3 linked regions of the Homo sapiens genome follow. The protein of the gene in region 1 purifies or fractionates together with the protein of each later gene. This does not show direct contact. Each region holds a gene or a part of one and is shown on either strand. Other genes may lie near its edges.

Evidence for each region.
Region 2: the proteins of GALNT7 (region 1) and SLC9A1 purify together in Homo sapiens (affinity purification with mass spectrometry; 2 studies listed by BioGRID and IntAct, with this or other methods). This does not show direct contact.
Region 3: the proteins of GALNT7 (region 1) and CLTCL1 purify together in Homo sapiens (affinity purification with mass spectrometry; 2 studies listed by BioGRID and IntAct, with this or other methods). This does not show direct contact.

The regions. Positions count from the first base shown.
Region 1 is NC_000004.12:173,241,801-173,248,826, reverse strand, and holds part of GALNT7 (N-acetylgalactosaminyltransferase 7), read right to left. Parts: intron 848-7,026; coding exon 387-847; intron 1-386. UniProt on the Homo sapiens protein: Glycopeptide transferase involved in O-linked oligosaccharide biosynthesis, which catalyzes the transfer of an N-acetyl-D-galactosamine residue to an already glycosylated peptide.
Region 2 is NC_000001.11:27,145,123-27,152,148, forward strand, and holds part of SLC9A1 (sodium/hydrogen exchanger 1), read right to left. Parts: intron 1-7,026. UniProt on the Homo sapiens protein: Electroneutral Na(+) /H(+) antiporter that extrudes Na(+) in exchange for external protons driven by the inward sodium ion chemical gradient, protecting cells from acidification that occurs from metabolism.
Region 3 is NC_000022.11:19,288,717-19,295,924, forward strand, and holds the start of CLTCL1 (clathrin heavy chain 2), read right to left. Parts: upstream 3,004-7,208; 5' UTR 2,926-3,003; coding exon 2,884-2,925; intron 1-2,883. UniProt on the Homo sapiens protein: Clathrin is the major protein of the polyhedral coat of coated pits and vesicles. Two different adapter protein complexes link the clathrin lattice either to the plasma membrane or to the trans-Golgi network.

The DNA.
Region 1 (7,026 bases):
CAAATCAAGGAAGTTTTGCTATTAAAAAGTTGTCACTTAAACTAAACAAAATATTTAATAGTGTAGTTGACTTACATCCTGGTGCAAGCTCATTTTCTCACTGTGGACTGGTAACAAAAAATTCATTGACCAGTGCCAGTCTGGGGACCATATTTTGAATAGCACTGACGTAGAGGGCCCCAGAATTTTATACAGCCCACCTTCAATACAATGGCATAAATGGAGGGACTGCCTCCTTCTGACCATTTTGCTGTTCAAAGATCCTCTTATTTCCTTGAAATAAAGGCATCAATAATTATTTCTTCATTCTAACAATCTAACTAAACCTAAAAACCTATGAAAACAACAGTTGCCCCATTTTTAGAAAGAAGAGGATGTGTGCTTACTCTTCTTGGCGTAAGTCATTGACGCTGCGGTCCAGTGAGATCATGTCACTTGCCACCATGTTAAATCCAAACTCTTTAATGCTGGCTTGAATTGCTTGTTTGAATTCTGGTCCCAAAACCAATGGCTTGGCTTTCTCTCCAGGGCCACCAACCACTCCAGGAGGCTCAGGTTCTTTGGGTTCAAAGTTACCGAGGATCCCTGGGCGAAGCACAGGATCATGGTAGGTGAATGTCTGAGGCTTAAATGTGAGATACTGCCTCTGCATGATATCTTTCTGGGAATCTCCTCCAGCATGGTGCTCTTGTTCATTTTTGGCCTTGTTTATTCTTCTAATAGACTCTAAGTCCACTTCTACTCCTTCAACATGAGGCCATGGTACCACAGGTTTGAATCTGTCCTCCCCAGGAGCTAGTCCATTGCCGCCTCGGTTGGGCATGGGGTCATTGACATCTCTGTCTTCCTATACAAAAGGGAGGGGATATACAATGAGTACATGAAGGCAAACCACCACAGTAGAGCTCATGAGACCAATTTTCAGGTTTTGAAAAAGGCTGAGGCAACAATAAAACAGTTTGGAATACAAGCGGGCCATTAATCAGGACTTCCCATTAGGAGATATCTTTCAGGGTAGAGAAGAAATACCAAGAAATAGGCTATCTCCTCGCCTTACTATTTCAAAATTAATGAAAGGATGCATTTTTACTTCTCCCTTTACAAATCTACTTCTCTATCAAAGACCTCTTAATAAAGCATATTTTTAAGGGTTAGAGCAAAGAAGTTCTAGAATCTTTGATTAAAACAGATGCTTAATAGGTCATGTTTGTACAGTATGTGGTTTTCCCAGTTGTACCGTGTGTGATAAATATAACCTTTTGTCGGTAGCACAACCATATGGTGGCAGTGGTATTAGATGGATGTCACTGTCAGCAGGCTGGCTCAGTGCCCCAAATGGCAGAGGAACAAGGCGGGGATATGCAGAGTCCCGATTTGGTATTTTTTACTCACTGAGAGTTTATCTGAAATCAGAAGTATAAAAAAAGCTAATATCTGTAACTAAGTCAGCTCGGGCTTTTAAACCACTCCCCCATATCTAGTTTGCCCCATTCCAGAAGCAGCATGGGTCAAAACAGATTCTTTGTACAAGGATATTCATTCACAGTAAAGGGTGCCTCTCTTTTCTGTTTGGGCCGTCTTCATCACCTATGCAGATCTTCCAGTCAGATATCCTGAGTGCTTTTGCTTCTGAGGTATTATTTGTTAAGTTTTTTCCTAAGCCAGTACCATTCTTCGCACAAGACACTGTTTCTCAACATTGGCATCACCTTGATCACTTTAAAAAATGCCAATGTCTGTGTCTTACCCTCAGACATTGTGATTCAATTGGTCTAAGCATTTCGATTTTTAAAAGCACTCCTGGTGATTTAATATACATCTAAGCCTGAGAATCACTGGCTTAATGGGAGGGCTGCTCGTTATAATTAGACAAGGGGATTATAGAGGACACAGCTGGTGAAGAGGCAAGGTGCATACAGAATAAATGCAAAATAGGCTGATGGGTCTGCCACTTCCCTCTACACTAAAACTGTGTGATTCCCCAACAGAGTAGTCATAGAATTAGCACCACCCGACCAAAATCTTTCTACAGGGTTAGAGCTACCTTGAAAAGTAAAGTTTACTAGTTTGCCTTAAAAAATACAAAAGTAAGTCTCTAAGTATGATGTTGATGTGTAGGCTGCTCTCTATTAGTAGTTTATTTAGAGGCAAAAACCTTTATAGAAAGTCAGTTATTTCAGACGTGAAATTAGTAGTCAAGGGATCGCTAAGTCTTGATTTTCAAGAGTTCAAAAAGAAATTTTTAAAAATTTTCTATTTGTTTAGGTAACATAGGCATACAACACAAAATTCAAAACATCCAAAAGGGCATGTAGTGAAAAGCAAGCTTTCCTGCCTTTCCTTCTGCAGGGGTAATTACAGCTACCAACTTCTTGTGAATTTTTCTACAGATGTGATATGCATGTATAAACATACATGTGTATATATAACAAGATAATTTTTTTTGAAGATGGGACATAAATTTTAACTAACTCATTAAAAAAGGAACCTGTAAGATATTACAACTGGTTCAAAAATAAATCCAAAGGACAAACATAAACATCAAGAATATTGCAAAGAATTTACAAATAGATGCAAATCTGGTTAAATTGGTCACTCTGCATAGGGCAATAATCAATTGCATTCCACCAGAACTATTTCCATTTCAATGGGCAAGAGTCCTTTGCATCACTCTCAGTTTTCTGTAATTTCCAGGATTGTAAAATAGGAAAGGGTGAGATAAGCTGGAAAGTTGAGTTAGACAGACATCTTTTGGGAGCATTTCAAAGTTTTTCACAAGTTCCCCCCTAAATAGAAAAGGCAACACAGCCTGATTGTATAAATGTGATGCCTTTCTTCAGGCATGTGTGGTACAGGGTTGAGAAAGCCTCTAGATCAGCCTTCTGATTGTCCCACCTCAGAGACTTAGCTTGAGCCTAACCTGTGAGCCATACTAAGGGTCAGAGTAAGTGAGTAGAAGGCTGTTTTTTTGGAAATCATATTCAGGAAGAACTGAAGATTCTCTTGGGAATTAACTAAGTAAAGTGTAAGGCACGCATGACTGTAAGAGAGAGGTAAGGGGTGATTCTGATGATGGAAAAAGTGTTCGTTTCTCCAATTTATCTCCTGGCTCCTTCCAAAATTATACTTACTTATGTTAGTGTTGTAAGTAAATTAATATAGAGATATCATTATAAAATGTTGTAACAAACTGGTTCCCAGTTGTTGATGCTGAAACAAGTATAACACAAAAAGGAGAAAGACATTCTCCTCCACTTCAGTTTTTCCTTTCACAGGCTCAAGTGAATTGGTAAACAGGGAGGTAAGGAAATGTTATTAAATATAGAAGAGTAGTTGGAACAGCTCATATGATGTCAGCATCCATAGCCATAGCATCCACTAAGTTACCTAATGTTCCATAGAGAAGAAATTGAATATTAGAAGAATATAGAATATGATAGTACATGAAATCAAATTGTGAAATACACGCCATAGTTTAGGTTGACCTATGCTAATACCAAAATTGCAAATTTAAATATTTTTCAAATTCAACTATTTCAATGACAGAAATTTTAATGGATTAAAAATTCATGTTTATTTTCCTCCAAAAGTTGTTTTTTTTTTTTTTTTTTGACTTAATGGTTCTTTGTCTAATCTTAAACTGTTAGTGTTCTTCAGGGTTCTGTTATTAGTCTATTTGTCATTCCATCCTCATTCTAGGTTATTTCATTCTCTTCCAAGCTCAGTGACCAGTTTTATAGTGATCACTGCTACATCCATTTCCCCAGCCCGTATCACCTTTCTGAACTCAAAACCTTACAGGCAACTTCTTCCTGAACATTTCTATTCATATCTCTCTAGTACCTAAATTTAACATACCAAAAACTGAACCTATCATTCACCTCACATCACAAGCCTGTTTCACTGACTGTCTCCTTACTTCAGGGACTGAAACCACCATTCACTCAACTGATGAAATCCAAAACCTGCAATCACCCTCAACTTTTTATTCTCTTTTATCTACCCTTCTGACATCCAATTAATCATAAATTCCTGTCAATTCTATCACCTGTGTAGAGCCTCCATCTGGCCACTTCTTTCTATCATCCTCACTGCTACTGCCTTAATTCAGGCACCCTCACCTCTGAACAAGATTACAATAGGAATAATAGTGATGATGGTAAACACTGTGTCCTAAGTGCTTCACATACATTAACTTATTCAATCCCATGAGTTAGGTACTATGATTGCCATGTCTATTTTATAGATGGGACATCTGACAGGGAAGTTACCTAAGATTAGAATCAGTATGTAGTAGAGTCAAAATTTCAATCCAAATAGTCTGGCTCAGGATCTACACTCTTAACTACTATGACCTAGTGCTTCTCGCCCTGACACATACTTCCTACACAGCAGCCACAGGGACTTTTCTAAAATTCATACATCAACATGTTTCTTTCCCTGCTTACCATATTCCAGCAGTAGCCCACTGCCCTCTGGAGAATACACACTCCTCAAGGGGGTTGGCAAGGCTTTTCCAGTTCTAGACTGCATTTATGAAATGTCTTCAGCACTATCCATGAGAGAGGGGTCAGCAAACTTTTTCTTCAAAGGGTTAAGTAGTAAACATGTTTGGCTTTGCAGACCACAGGGTCCCTGTGGTAATTATTCAAGTCTGCCTCTGCAGTGTGGGAGCAGCCATAGACAATATGTAAATGAATGGGTATGGCTGTGTTCCAGTAACCATGTATTTACAGAGACAGGTGTTGGGCTGGATTTGGTTCCCTAGTCCCTGCACTAGACTGTAAGTTCTGTGAAAGTGCAGAGGCTATGTCCATCGTACGCACCACTGCATGCCCAGTGCTTATCCTGGCACATAATTCCTCAATAAATACTCACTGAATAAATGAATGAATCCTAAAATTTCTGCTTTGGTGGTAAGATAGACTCCGAAAAGAAAAGGGGAGATAAAGAATGGAAAATACAAAATGGGAGAGCAGGGCTTAAATCAGATAGACCCGTACTGGCAATACCTTATGAATTCACCAAGAACATAACTCTATATTCCCTACACGGCACTGTACTTTTAATAATGCCATATAATAGCACCAGAAAAATTGAATTTGCTCACTTCTCAGAGGCTGCATGTCATTAAATCGGAAGGCAAAACCAAATACAAGAATTGTCTGTCTAACCCCAAGTCAACTAAGAATAATCACATCAAATCTTAATTATATGATTCAAACAACGGCTATAAAGTGGTGTAATACTTTACTCCCCTGAGGAGGAAAGCTACATACTCCTCCTTTCTGAGAGTGAATGAGAATCAGTAGATGCCTCTGTGACTCACTGGTACAATGATACCTTCGTAAACACCAGCTGATCCACTCTACAGCCCAAACTAATGAATCACTGTTAAACAGAAATGGAAAAGAGGATGAGTAGATAATTTTCCAAGATCAGTATGTTCATAAAGGTGGAAATGGACTGAAAAATATAACCACTTATCACTGGATGGTAATATGGATTACCAGAAGTAAGGTCAGGCTAGTAACCATCCACCTTACAACTTACAAAGTGCCCCTTCTTACCCCCAAATCCTGCTTATATGTAATATTTTTCCAAGATGGCCATGCCTTGGTAGAGATAATATAAATCCAAAGGGATTTAGAAAAATGGTCTTTAGAGCAAATGACAGTAACATAGGCTTGTTTGAATTTGAAATCACAGGTGAAGCCTAGAAAACTAAGCTTTTAATGATGAGCTTATGCAGTCACATGATCTCTTGAGAAATGATGACTTAGCTTTAGGAAAGGGCCACTGCTTGAACAACATGCACACTACTTGGTTATCATGCTTCATGAGCCACAGAATTTAAAGGTATAACAAGCCAAACTTCATTCTGTGATTTTAACTCTCTTGATCAAAAACACCTTTCTTCAGAAAAATCCTATCAGCATCCTTTCTCTGGCTGCAGTTACCTAAAAGGAGCAGAAGGAATGGACACAGAAAGCAGAGAGGGAGGTGGTAAAAATAAATAAGCTCCAGAAATTCAGAGGGAACAAGGCGTGCCAGTAGGCTGGGGCTCCCCAGACTCTCACCAACATGTGGCAGGATGTGGGTGGGAATGTGGAGTGCACCAGCCTCAGTACCCTTCTTTCTCTCTGCTTAGTTACAGCTGGATGGACTAGACATTTCCGGCTGACTGAAGAGCTCCATGTCTTGCTCCTTTCAGAGCACTGAGCGATGACTGCATTGGGAGCTGCAGCCCTGCTGGGCATGGTCAAGGAATTTGTGCTTAATCAGGGCTTAAAATGGATAAGCCCAAGATTAAACAGAGACCTTACCAGTCCTTAAATATCTAGAATGTCATCCATACAGGAAAGGACCCATTTCCAAGTATATTTTAATATCCCTAAACTAGAAAGAGATTGAAGGCCACTTTCCAATGGCAATGCCTCTGTTAGCAACTAGGGCAGAACTGAAAATGGATGAAGCATGCTTTCAGGTAACTATGGAAATATAAAAATTCTATATAAGCTCTAGGTGTGGCTTAAAGTATGATATTCTGGTAAGAATTATCTGCTCAAAGAAATAGACCCGCTTAGAGGAATTGCTATTCTTCTTTATCTTTTTTTTCCCTTTCTTTAAGTATCAGGCCAAGATATAAACCAAAGGGTAACAAAATAGAGAAAATAGTAGAGTTGACATCATAATGCTCCACTAAAAGAAATCAAGGTCAGCAACTCTAATACTGTATATTAAACTTAAGCAGGGTAACCAGGCTGAGTACTACACAGTAAACCAGTTCGTCCCAAAGTTACTTTACAGATTGAAACACTGGGACTCTTGACAATGGAGTGATGCCTATTATGGAATAGCTAATAGTTATATCTTTTATTTTTATCTCAAGACTTCTAATATACTATGGTAACTGCAGTTACAAGTGGGCAAGTCTGTGAAGCAGTTTTAGCCACCTACTGGGAAGATTTTATCGGGTTTCTAAGGGGGCATTTTGAGCCAATTAAATGCCACCCCCCTTTAACC
Region 2 (7,026 bases), on another chromosome or scaffold:
AGGCTTACATTCTTATGGAAATTGGTACTAAGTATAGCCTGCTTATCTAATTCCTTTCCATCCTTCAAGACTCAGACTAATGTTCCACCTCCTTTGAGAGGCTTTCTCTAAACACCCCAGTCCTCAGGGACTGCTTGCTCCCTCTGTACTTTGCCTCTGCCAGGAGTCCGCCCAGCCCTGGCAGGCTGGAAGCTCCTAAAGAGCAGGGCCTGGGTTTACTCTTCTTTTGTTCCTTGATGGCCATATGCTAAATGCCTGCTAGCTGATTTCAGCTGACCTGCCTCTTCCACCCAGGATCTTAGCGAGCTGCTCTTGGTCCTGGCTGGCTGATGCAAAGACACAGCCTCTTCCAGCTTCACTTGGCATACAGCAAATGCTATGCAAGTGTTAGCTATTTATTGGTTTAGTGAACTTGTGGGCTCTAACACACAGCTGTGATATCACTCCTCCGCCTTCTGTGGCCTGGTCTCAAACAGGCTCAGCACTGTGGCAAGGCCAGTCTGGGCTTAGGGGTAAGTGCTTCCCAAGGGACAGGGAAGGGGGCCTGGGAAGGAACAGAGCTTTTCATCCTGAATCTCAGTTAGAACTGCTTAAGGACATATCTTTTCAGGAAAGAATTTGCTGGGGTAATTTGGGGGGAACTCTGGATTCTTGGCAAGTAGTATAAAAACTCAGGGCTCAGGTCTGGCCTAATAGACCCCAAAATCGGCTCTGTATATTAGATGAGCTTTAGGGGGAAGAAAATGAAGTCAGCATGATCCCAGGGAAGGCGGGCAGCCCACTGATCCAGGCCCAACCCAAAACTTAGTTCAGTTAAAATTAGATTAGCCCATAAGATTAAAATACCAACATATAATCACGGGCTGCTTTAAAGTATCAGTTGATGTTTATCGGCATCTAAAGAGACAGTTTGGCCCAGTGCAGTGTGTGCAGACAACCTTGGGGAGACATGCCTGACTCAGACATTTGCAGGGGGAGCGAGTGCTGCAAAATGAGGCCCACACAGGCGATGGATGACTCAGGAATAACCCAGGTCCTGGGTGTGCTGAGCGAGCCTTCTCTCCCTGCCTCAGGAGGAAAGGGGGCAGGTGGGAGAGGCGGTGAGGAGGAAAGGAGGCTGTGTATGGGCTGGCATTCCCAGAGACAGCCTCAGGCCCCCAGCTCTAGTTCCCCGTCACTCCTGTATTTTTCTGCATGCTGCCACCTCTGAGAAAGGTTATTTGCTTCACAGTGGGACTTGGAGTGGGTCAGCTTTTTCCCCAAACCCAAGAAGTGATCCACAGAAAGCAGCCAAGGCTCAAAATACTAAAGTCTTTAAATCTCCCCCAATTCAAAATGATTATGGGAAAAATTGAATTTCTAAACTGAAAAGGCCCTTGGAATCAGGGCATGAGGATGAAAAGAACACAGGCTCTGAAGTCAGACAAATCTGGGCTTAAACCCCAATGTTTTCTAGCTGTGCAAGTACCTTTCACAACCTCTAAACTAGATATGAATAAGTGGCAGCTTAGCTGGATGTGGTGACCTGTACCTGTGGTCCCAGCTACTCAGGAGGCTGAGGTGGGGGGATTGCCTGGAGCCAGGGAGGTTGAAGCTGCAGTGAGCCGTCTTTGCGCCACTGCACTCCAGCCTGGGAGACAGAGCGAAATCCTGTCTCAAAAATAAACAAAATAAAAAATTAATAAGTGGCAGCTAATTAACAAGTATTTAACAAATATATCACCAATTACCGGACGGGTGCAGTGGCTCATGTCTGTAATCCCAGCACTTTGGGGGGCCGGGACGGGCAGATCGCCTGAGGTCAGGAGTTCAAGACCAGCCTGGCCAACATGGCGAAAACCCATCTCTACTAAAAATACAAAAATTAGGCCGGGCGCGGTGGCTCATGCCTGTAATATCAGGACTTTGGGAGGCTGAGGCGGGCAGATCACCTGAGGTCAGGAGTTCGAGACCAGCCTGGCCAATATGGTGAAACCCTGTCTCTACTAAAAACAAACAAACAAACAAACAAACAAAAAAACCAAAAAATTAGCCAGGCATGATGGTTGGTGCCTGTAATCCCAGCTACTCAGGAGGCTGAGGCAGAAGAATCACTTGAACCCGGGAGGCGGAGGTTGCAGTGAGCTGAGATCATGCCTCTGCACTCCAGCCTGTGCAAAAGAGCGAGACTCTGTCTCAAAAAAAAAAAAAAAAAAAAAAGAAAAGAAAAAAATACAAAAATTAGCTGGGGGTGGTGGCGCATGCCTGTAGTCCCAGCTACTTGGGAGGTTGAAGTAGGAGAATCACTTGAACCTGGAGGCGGAGGTTGCTGTGAGCCGAGATCGCCTCACTGCACTCCAGCCTGGGCGACAGAGTGAGACTCCATCTCAAAAAAATAAATAAAAATAAAATAATAGGGAGTCAGGTGTGATGGCTCATCCCTATAATCCCAGCTACTCAGGAGACTGAGGCGGGAGGATCATTTGAGGCCAGGGATTCAAAACCAGCCTGGACAACAAAATTGGAAGATCCCCATCCCCCATCTCTAAAAAAACAAAACAAAACAAAATGAAAAATTAAGTATCTATATTATCAATTAGAAAACGGGCTCAGGCCAGGAGCAGTGGCTTACGCCTGTAATCCAGCACTTTGGGAGGCCAAGGTGGGAGGATCAGCTAAGGTCAGGAGTTCAAGACAAGCCTGACCAACACGGCAAAACCCCATCCCTACTAAAAATACAAAATTAGCCAGGTGTGGTGGCACATGCCTGTAATCCCCACTACTCAGGAGGCTGAGGCAGGAGAATTGCTTGAACCCAAGAGGCAGAGGTTGCAGTGAGCTGAGATTGCACTATTGCACTCCAGCCTGGGCAAAAAGAGCGAAACTCTTGTATCAAAAAAAAAAAGAAAAAAGAAAACAGGGGCTCAGAGAGGTTATGCCTTGCCTAAAGTCACACAGCTGGGCAACAGAGAGCTGAGACTAGATCTCAGGTATCTTAACCTTTCACCCCATCCTACATGTTTTCCATTGTAATCATTTCTCTGCCTCTCCTTTTCTCTCCCAGAGGGCATGCAACATTCTGGGGGAAAGGACAAGTCCTCCATTTCAAAGATTTGCTGCTCCACAGATAAGGGCTATGAGAATGTCAGTCCCCAGTGCAACTCTGGCCCTCATCCTCCTTCATGCAAATACAGGTATGTTCAAGTTGTAGAAAAGAACTTGGAGCTGAGCCAAAGCTGTCAAGGCTCCAGACCACCCAGACCCTTTAGCCCTTCCTGCCTACAGGAGGAACAGGTGTCCCTCCTGACAACAATCCAGGTTACCAATGTGGATGTGTCTGGTCATTGACTCTCCTCAAAGCCCCTTTAAATCTCTCATCCCCCTTGATCCAACAAGAACCCAGCATGTTGGCCTGGCAGGAGAGAGTTTGGCCTTGAGTGATTAGTCCCAGGCATGCTAAGTGACCTCAGGCAGGTCACAACCGAAGGCTCAATTTCCTTAGATGTAAAATGATGAACACATCAATACCACATGCTATTCTAACCCACAGGACCACTGAGAAGATCTAAATTAAATATTGTACACACAAGTGCTTTGGAAACAAATTTCAGTGCTAATGAGAAGTACTATTAAACTCCTCCTGCCTTGTAGAGCTAAACAAAGTTGTGCCACCTGCTCCCAACAGAGGCTGCCTCTCAGGGGACTCTGCTGGGCCCTGAGGGTAACCAAAAGCAGCCTGTCACCTTTCTGCTCAGAGGCGGGAGGTCATAAGGTCAGCCACCCCTTGTGGCTAAAGGAGACCACCCTTTACCTGGCACTTCCCTGCCCAAGCAGGGAAGAAGCAAGCTCTGGTCTGATGGCTGAGAGGGCACCGGAAGAGAGATAGCAGGCAGGGTTGCTAGCAGAGAACAAGGGATAGGCCTCCTGAATGCAGGATTCAGGTGCATCCAAGAAGACTCACAAAAACAAAGGACAGGTGCACAGCTGGACACAGAACACCTACAGCTTTCTCAAGGCAGGGACAGGGCTCCCACCAACGACATGTGCCCAACTCCTAGAGGGAGTCCTACAATTCCTGAGTGCAGGTGCAGTGAGCTGGGCGCTTCTCAGTGCAGGGCCATGTGCATCTGCTGCGGGAATGCCAGAGGCAGGAGATGCAGCTGCACCCCTCTAGCAGGCTATGCCAAGACTCGAACAGACAATAAATAGCAATTTGACATCACTGAAGATAACCTCTCTGAGCCATTTCCTCATCTGCAAAACAGAGACAGCTTTTATCTCATGTGATTTGAGTAGGGATTAAATAAGATTGCTTTTATAAAGTGCCTGACACTACTCTGTAGATACTAAGTGGCAACTATTATTAAAACACACACACCCGTTCAACACAGGAGATGTCACAGGGCAGGCAAGGCCTAATGCCACTGTTATGGATAAACAATAAGGGAAAAGGGTTTGGGAGAGAAAGAGAAAGTGACTGCTGTGGGCTGGGAAGACCTCCCAAAAGGGGAAGAATCTGCACGGCCCTGAAAGTTACTACAGTGAGCTGGGCACTCTACCAGGCATTCCCACGTTCAGCCTCTACGTTGGTCTTAAGGATGAGGCAAGTCAGGTTCAGAGAATGAGGTGCATGAACCTCAAGGTTCATGGTCACACAGGTACTGAGAGGCAGCATCAGGAGCAGAACCCAGGGCTTCTGACTACGTCTTTCCTTTGTACCAGGGCTGGACGCCATGGGGCTGGCTTGGAAGGAGAGGAAAGGCAAACTTCGAGGGTGCTCAGCTGAATGAAGTCTGGGCAATCTGACCAACTAAGCCCTCTAAGTGCCTTGGCACTCCTAGAGACACATGTCCTACCTGAAGCCTTCCTCCCAGTCCCCAGCTGACCTCCCTCCCACTGTTCTGCAGTCAGTCTGCTATTTTCCCAAAGAGAAAAAGGTCATCGCTTCCTTTTTAGAGTCCTATCTGGGCTTCTTGAGACAGTTTCAAGGTGACCTTTAGGCTATTTGTTCTTCTCTTCTTTTGAGAAGTGAGAGAGGCACCTTCTAGTGTCATTTTTATAGGAAACCAGTTGCTGGGTCTGATATCCATGCATGTGAAGTGGGCAGTGACCCCATCTCCCCTATTCACAGACTTAATCTACAGAGGAGATGGCAGGATTCGCCTTGCAAAGACCAAAACCAAAAAAAGCTATAAGATATAAAGGGACAAAAGAAGCCTTTTGTGTCCCTGGTCAGGAGACAAGATGAATACCTGCTTTATGGGCTCCCGGGCCTCTGCCAGGCATTCTGGGTCAGGAACATGGGTAAACAATTGCAGGAGATGCCAGTGGTGAGCTGAGTTACAGTGAGGCTCTCCTCTGGAATAAGTACTAGCCTGGGAGTCAGGTGAACATGGAACAAAGCAGAGTTCATGCGGGGTCCACAGCACAATGTGGGGTGGGGAATGCACCTAACTCCTAAGGCTTGGAGTCATTCCCACAGTTTTCCCAATAGCCTAAATCCTCTTCACACCACTGGCCCCTCCCCACCAAGGACAAGCAAGAATTCCTGACTGCTGGGGAGAGAAAAAAGGTCCAGAGAGGGAAGGTGACTTACCTAATGTCACCCACTGAGTCAGAGGTAGACTAGAACCCAGAAGCAACTATTCTAGAACTTCAGCTCCCACCCTGCTCCTCCCACCCCAGTCTCTGCAAGAGTCTACCCGAGGCTCTGCTCCATGGTTAGGGTAGGAAGGAGAACTGCAAAGCACTTTCTATTCTTATAGGAGGGGTAACCTGCAAGGGAAGCAGCTGCCATAGATGACAGAATGAGGGCTCCAACGGAACTCCTACCCACGCAGGGGTGTTGAGAGAATAGGCAAGACCCCAAAATCAGCTCCCAGGCTCTTGGGTATCTGAGAGTGCAGAGGGAGCATGGCCTCAGCCCCCCACCCTTATCCCTACAAGGCAGCTGGTGTCATCTTCCCTCCCGCCATGACCAGCTCAAGTGAACAGTATAGGACACATGGAAACCCTGATACCCTAAGGAAGGACATTGGTGGCAGCCTAGGTTTGAGAGATTTGTAATCCTTCAGCTCAGAGGAAGGTTGTAGGAGGCTGAGGTAGGGATGCATTTGCTGTAGGTGGTTAAAATATTAACAGGGGCAGCTGTCACTCATTGAACACTTCCTGTGTATACAAACTTTTATGTGCATTTATTTATGTAATAATCACATTAATAGCACTATAACTGGATACTATTAGTTCCCATTTTATTTTTTTTTATTTATTTATTTAGAGACGGAATTTCACTCTTGTTGCCCAGGCTGGAGTGCAATGGCGCAATCTTGGCTCACTGCAACCTCCGCCTCCTGGGTTCAAGCGATCCTCCTGCCTTGGCCTCCAGAGTAGCTGGGATTACAGGCAGCCGCCACCATGCCCAGCTAATTTTTTGTATTTTTAGTAGAGACGGGGTTTCACCATGTTGGCCAGGCTGGTATCAAAACTCCTGACTTCAGGCGATCCACCCTGCCTCAGCCTCCCAAAGTGCTGGGATTACAGGCGTGAGCCACTGCGCCCAGCTTAGTTCCCCTTTTATACATGAGGAAACTGAGGCTCAGAGATGCTGCTAAGTGGCAGAGTGGTGGCTGAATTCCACACTGCAAAGGTGAAGCTGGGAAAAATGGGCTTTCATTTTTGAGGCCTGAACAGGGACTCTTCAGATCTTTAGACCACCTTTCTCTCCACTCATGGCCAGATGCTAGAACTCCTGTTTTCAGAGGCAGAAAAATGCCTTTCCAAGGCAGAAACAGACTTTTGGAAAGGAGACCACATCCAGCCTCATCATTTTACAATGGGAAAACTGAGGTCCAAGGCTGAGTGACTTGCCAGAGTTTCCAGAGTCAGTGGAATGACAGAAATATCACACCTGGAAGGGACCACAAAGATCAACTGATGGGTAGGGAGGCGTGACTGGTCCAAGGACAGAGGGAGGTAGGAAGAGAAGCCAGGTTTTCCTGACTTCTAGACTGATATTGTTGCCATGACACCATCTCTGCTCTCCAGCTG
Region 3 (7,208 bases), on another chromosome or scaffold:
GAACATCAAGCTTATGGGAATACATAACATCACCAGCAGCATGTCCTGAATGAAAAAGCAGAGGGGCTCAAGACAGATTCCAAGCTCATGCACAAGAGCCGCCCATGGGGCAGTGGGTGTGGGCAGAGAGGAAGGAGAAACCCTGGGAAACTGTGGAACCAAAAACAGTAGAGAAAGGACCCTCAGGAGGCAGTAAAGTGCAGCATCAAATGCGGCTGGACATCACAGAAGATGCGTGTGGTGTGATGGGCTTTATCTCACCTAGCTCATCGCATCTTATTTTTTGAGACGGAGTCTCGGTCTGTTACCCAGGCTGGAGAGTAGTGACATGATTTTGGCTCACTGCAACCTCTGCCTCCCGGGTTCAAGAGATTCTCCCGCCTCAGCCTCCTGACTAGCTGGGACTACAGGTGCGTACCAACACGCCCGGCTAATACTGTATTTTTAGTAGAGACGAGGTTTCACCATGTTGGCCAGGCTGGTCTCGAACTCCTGATCTCAGGTGATCCACCCGCCTCGGCCTCCCAAAGTGGTGGGATTACAGGTGTGAGCCACCATGCTCGGCCTGATTTTATTTTTTACAGCAAAGATTAGCCAACTGCAGCCTGCTTTTGTATGGCTAAACTAAAAGTCTTTTTCATATTTTTAGAAGGTTAAAAAATGTAAGAATATGGGACAGAGACAGAATGTGGCCCTTACAAAAAAGCCTGCAGGATGGCTTGTAACCTTGGCAAAAACAGATTCAGGGGAAAAAATGGGGACAAAAGCCAGACTGCAGGTTACTGTGGAACATAAAAATAATGAAGCACTAAAGCAGCTCTTTCATGACATCCAGCTATGAGACAAGAGCTTCGTGGGGACAAGAGCGGGGGAAGAAGTTTGCTGGTTGTACAGATGGAAGAGAGGTGAGCATTGCCCAACACAAACAGGAAGAAACAACAAGACAGAAGGATGAAAATACAGGAAAGGGAGGCTATGACTGAACGAGGCTCCCTTATAGGGAAGAAGGATACCAGATCCAGAACATAGACAAGAAAGGACACCTACTTTTGAGGTAACAGGAAGGCAGGAAAGGGTGGCTGCAGACAAACATCTAAGTCTGCAGCCATATAGGTGAGAAACATCCCAGTTATGGCTTCAGTTTTCTCCAAGTCATCTGCTGGTTGCAAGGCAGGAGTGGCAGGATCAGGGATTTAAGGAACAGGCTGAAGTCTCGAAATGTCTGTAGTGAAGGCAGTGTGTGCTGACTCAGTGTTTGCTCTACAGAATGCACAGCAGCCTCAAAGACCCAGTCAGTGTTAGAGACCACAAACCAGACTTGCATTCACGTGGCTGCCCACCACAAGCCACAAGCATTTTCCAGATAATGGAACATATCAACTCTGATGGACATTACAAATCCTGATGGACATTAGAAACTCTGATGGACACCTAAAATATCTTGTTGCTTTCTTGCCCTTTGAAAAGAACATATTTAGATAGTGGTTAAGCACAGGCATTGGAATCAGACCTGGGTTAGAACTCAAGCTTTGTCACTTACTAGCCATGTAACTTTTGCTGAAGGAATTAGAATATTAACCTCAGTGACCCATGGTAGAAAACAGGATATCACTATCTGCCTCAGTTATCATGAGGATTAAATTAAACCAGATTTATAAAATACAGTAGTCTAGTGAGTGGCAAGAGAAACGGCTCAGTAAATGATAACTACATCATCATCATTATTATGAGCAGCAGCAGTATTTTGCTACCTCAACATGACTGGTGCTGGCTTAGCTTAGTGGCAGAATGAAGCCCGGACAGATGTCAGGGCACTCCCACCTCCATACAACTTCCACTGTGTCACTAACCAAGTGACCCTGGCAGGATCCCCTGGATATCAAGTTTCCAGTCTGCAGAATGAGGGGACTGGACTGCACTACACAGTTCCCAAGGCTTTTCCCGTCTGCATCTAGGGCTAACAGTGCTCTGCACTGTGAAAATAGGAACTTTCAAGCAAGCACGTTCCTCGATGTACTACTTTGTGGTCAAAAAGACTTGAGTCTGAATCCTGTTCTTATTGAATGAAGATGAGTTCTTTAACACTTTTGAGACTCGGTTTCCTCATCTAGAAAAGAGTAAGCGAATCGCAACGAATGGTAGTGTGATGATTTAACACAGAGCACTCAGGGAGGAGCCGCTGGCTATCCCTCCTCTGCCGCACCTCCCAGGGTAAACGTGGGGACCAGCACCGCTCCCGGGCAGACCCGCGAGCGGCCCGCACGACGCCCGACCTGAGCCTTTGCTCAAAGCAGGGGGCCAGTCCTTATGTTTCTGAACACAAACAAATGGAGAACAAACTGGGACCTTATTAAAAAGGCAGGCTTTGGGGGTGTTACTGCATTGAAAAGCCCTATTTAGGCTTGGCCCTGAGAAATTTTTCTCTTGGGTCACGCATGTTCACGGTCCTCCCAGGCGAAGCCGCCCTGGGGACGAAAACCGATCACAGAGGCAAACTCAGGGGCGAATAAGGACCGCAGGACGCCAAGGAGGGGCGTGGAGCTGTGGGATCCGCGCGGCCCTTGGGTTGCCCTGCCTGCAGCGGGAATTTGTGTGCCTCCTCGCGGGCACTGAGCGGGGCGTCCCAGGGGGCGTTGGCTTCCACCCCCACCATTCCCCAGCCGGCCCCGCCGGTAACGGGCTTCGGCGACGGCACCCAAGCGGGTCCTCAGGAGCGGCCGCCGCGCCCGGGACGCCGCAGCCCCAGCCCAGGTGGGAGGTCGGAAATCGGCGCGGCCAGCTGGGCAGCGGCTCAGCGGGGCTGGGGGCGCGGGGTCAAGCCTGGCAGTCCGGCCCGGCGGAGGCGCGGCTGACAGGGCAGCCCCCCAGCCCGCCGGGCCTCACCTGGAAGTGCTCCTGAAAGCGAACAGGGAGGATCTGCGCCATGGCTGGTGCGGGACCTCGGCGGCGGCGGCGGCAGCGGCAGGAATGAACGCCGACCCCTCGCGCGGGCTGACCGGTGGCGACGGCGCAGGCGCAGTGCCCCGAGCTCCCGGTCCTGGCCCCCGCCCTCCTCCCTGACCGCGCCCCGGCCCGCACCCCCTTTCCCCGCCCCTTCCCCCGCCCCTGCCCCGCCCCTGCCCCGCCTCTGCCCCGCCCCTGCCCCCGCCCCTGCCCCCGCCCCTGCCCCCGCCTCTGCCCCGTCCCGCCTGCGCGGATCCCTCCGCCCGCTCCGAGGGTCCGCGGAAAGTAGTCCCGCGCGCCCTCTGCCCTGACGCGGTGTGTGCCAGCTACCCGAGTGAAAGGTTTTCGGGGGATTAATCCTGATGGGGTCTGCGGCGGCCCTTGCCCAGCGCCTTCCACATGTGGAGCGGGCCAGTGGTGCTAGTTCTGCCGCCAACTCTGGACGGTTGAGTTCAGGGCCACTTTTTACTCAGGCACGGATGTGACAGAAAGATGGAAAAGGGTCTTGGAAGAACCACATGTGCCGTATAACGAACGACCTTTTGGTCTGAGGAGGACCGTGTATATGACGGTGGTCCCATAACATGATAACGGAGCTGGAAACTTCCTGTCCTCTGGTGAGGGCTTAGCTAAGGACATTTCCTCTCCTGTATTTGGAGATACACGTACAGGTATGTCATTACCGTGCCAGGGGAATAACGCACCTCACACGCGGTGCGGGTTTGCGGCCTAGCAGCAGCGGACCGCATCAGCTGCCTAGTTGTGTAGTGGCTGTGCCATCTGAGTTTGTGTAAGTTACCTTGTGATGATCCCACAACCGAGACGCATGTCTCAGAATGCATGGATGCATGGGACGCGTGACTGTACGTGTTACAGACGTGTTTCGGCGTGAGGCTCGGCCCCTGCTCCTTTAGGAAACACCTTTCCTGGCTCATGCGGTTTCTAGAGAACACTGTGTCGGAATATCAATGTAGAGAGTCAGCGAAGGTCATCTAGCAGCAGATGACCAGCCCCAGGCCAGTGAGGATCACCCAGAGTGCCCGTGGCTGCACGACAGTAGTAGCAGGTGGAAGCTGGAGCCCACACCTGGTTTGCCCAGCAGCCAGTTGTTTTTCCGAGGCACCGTTGGCTGATGTTTTGCATACAGATGATTCAGCTGCATAAAAGATGTCTGTCAGGAAAGGGAAGCCCTTGGCATTCAGCACAGGCACTCCCTACGGGGTAATCGATAGCCGTCTCTGCTGCTTCCCATGTTGCTCACTGGTAATTTTAAGAAATGAACGGCCCACCTTGAATAAGACAAGGATGGTGCAATTATTTGCGCAATGGCTTGACCATCTAGTAGCCAAAAATATGTTAAGGAATAGAACAGACTGTTCACTTTCAAATTAAATCTCTTTTCCAGTATTAGCCAAGACCTCTGCAGCCCGCCCTTTCTAAAATCCATGTGGCCTCATCCGCTAAATATAGAGCTGGGTTTTGCTGTGGTTAGTACTACATTTCCCAAATCTCTTTATTTTGGCAATGATGCCTGTGACTCCAAGTACCCTTTACCCCAAACATTATATAAATTTTTTAGTAATTAATACCATCACTCCCTAAATCACCTTCCCCAGGGCTTTTTGGGGATTAAAACTAAAATTTTATACCCTAAAAGAAAGAATTTAAGAAAATCATAGTTAAGCAAAGTGACAGGATTGTTAATACGTCGGGACCTCAAGTGGGGATTAAGTTTCAACATTAATTTTAGAGGAGACACAAATCTTTCTGTCTCTTCAAACCATAGAAGAGACAGAAAGCACAACAGTTATTTGAATAGACAGAAGTGAATATAAGTGATAGTTGTAGTTAACAGGAAATAAAGTTGTTAATATACTTGTAAAAAAATTAAATGTTCTGACTTGAAAGGGACTTTAATATTCTCACCACTTGTAGGTAACTTGCTAAGTAACCCTAAAAAAACCTTTCAATTCTTTTTTTTTTTTTTTTTTTTTTGAGACAAGAGTCTCGCTCTGTCGCCCAGGCTGGTGTGCAGTGGCACGATCTCTGCTCACTGCAACCTCTGCCTCTCAGGTTCCAGCCATTCTCCTGCCTCAGCCTCCCAAGTAGCTGGGACTACAGGCGCACGCCACCGCACCTGGCTAATTTTTCATTTTTAGTAGAGACAGGGTCTCACCATGTTGACCAGGCTGGTCTCAAACTCCTGGCCTCAGGTGATCCATCCACCTCGGCCTTCCAAAGTGCTGGGATTACAGGTGTGAGCCACCGCGCCTGGCCCGGGATTAAGTTTCAACATTAATTTTGAAGGGGACACAAACCTTCAAACCACAGAAGAGAGAGAAAGTGCATCAGTTATTTAAACAAAGGGAACTGAATATAAACAATAGTTAACAGGAAGTAAATTTAAAATAATAAAAAGAAAATCCCAAGATATGGAGTTACAAACATAGGACACAGCTACCACCCCTAGAGCTCAAAGATGAAAGAGAAGCTGGAATTATTACAGCTTAAAGGAAGGGCTTGCAGAGCTGGAATTCAGATCTCTGAGGAGGTGTGTTGACCAGCTGGGGCTGGGGTCATTGAGCCCAGAGGAGAGATCCCATGGGGATGGGACTCAGACCTCTGAGGAGGGTCCCTACGGGACTTAGACACACACTATGGATGAGGGGTGGCTGTGGAGCTGGGAGTAAGCCCTCTAAAGAGGGCACTGGGAGACTCTCACCCAGATCTCTAAGGAGAAGGCATACTGAGGCTGGTTCTGCAAGTCTTGGAAAAACTTAAACTGGATTCAGCTTCTGTGGGAAGAATGTGCTGCTGCCTTGTTGAAGAAGCCTAGCTGGGGTGATGCTCACAGGAAGTGGCCCTGTGGTCTCCCTCTATCAACCTATCAGCTTAGTCTAATAGGGAATATTAGATCAGATCTTCTTTATTTGCCAATGAGAAATATGTTTTTTAGAGTCTCAGCCCTGGCATCAGAAGCAGTGTCTAGAGGTGGGAAGGGAGAATAGAGCTGAAAGACATTATTTAATAACTGGTACAAGAAACGACATGTTATAGCTAAATTCCAATTCCCATGGGACTTTCCTATAGGTGGAATTGAAAAGTCTGTGGAGGCGTATAATCGCAGCGCTTTGGGAGGCTGAGGTAGGAGGATTGCTTGAGCCCAGGAGTTCAAGACCAGCCTGGTCAACCCCATCTCTTCAAAAAAATTTAAAAATTAACAGGGCATGGTGATGCATGTCTATAGGCCTAGTTGGGAGGCTGCAACAGGAGGATCACTTGAGCCCATGAGCTCAAGGTTACAGTAAGCTATGATCGTACCACTATACTCCAGCCTGGGCAACAGAGAAAGACCCTGTCTTTAAAAAAGAAAAAGTCACTGGAGGACTTTAGTTTTCAGACAGCTTCAGAGAACTAAAAAGGCAGTGAATAATTATGAGGCCAATATCAGAGAGAAAGGACATGAGAGAGGTGAGTGGTTTATGGCTGCTTTTTCTTGAAAGGCATCTGCCAATTCCAGATGAATGTTTGAGACACTAGGACTCTGAGCAGCACTTTTAACACTCTCATTGCCCTAGGACGACAAAATTTGGAGGCTTGGTACCACCAAGGAGGTATCCCACTGTACTGTTTTGGGACCACAAGTTGTTTGGGACTCCATTCAAATCATGTCAGTCCTTGCCAGCAGCAAATGTAAATCTTCCCTGGGAATGATAACCTCATCCATGGTCTCAAATTACTTCTACAATTGTTCATATGCAGTGTTCAACACTGAATCAAAAATAAGTAGGCATCCAAGGAGAAAAGACAAAATGGTTGCAAAAAACAAGAGCAAGCCTGGACAACATAGTGACACCCTGTTTCTAAAAAACTAATAATAATAATAATTAGCTGAGCATGCACCTCCAGAGTCTGAGGCAGGAGGATGGCTTGAGCCCAGGAGGTCAAGGCTGCAGTGAGCCAAGATCACACTGCTGCACTCTAGCCTCGGTGATAGAATGAGGCCCTGTATCTGAAACAAAAACAAGAACAGTAACAGACAAGTGAGCTCTAGGGGATCAAAAAATGGAGTTTTCACAAAGACTTTTAAATAATTATGCTTAATATGGTTAAGAGGATAAAAGACAAGGTTAAGAATTTTATCACAAGCCTGTAAATTATAAAGAACCAAATGGAAATTCTAGAACTGAAATTGTGAAAATTCACCAGATAGTGTTAGCATATTACACACCTCTGAAAAGAGAAAGCTAGTGATGGTAGAGTTA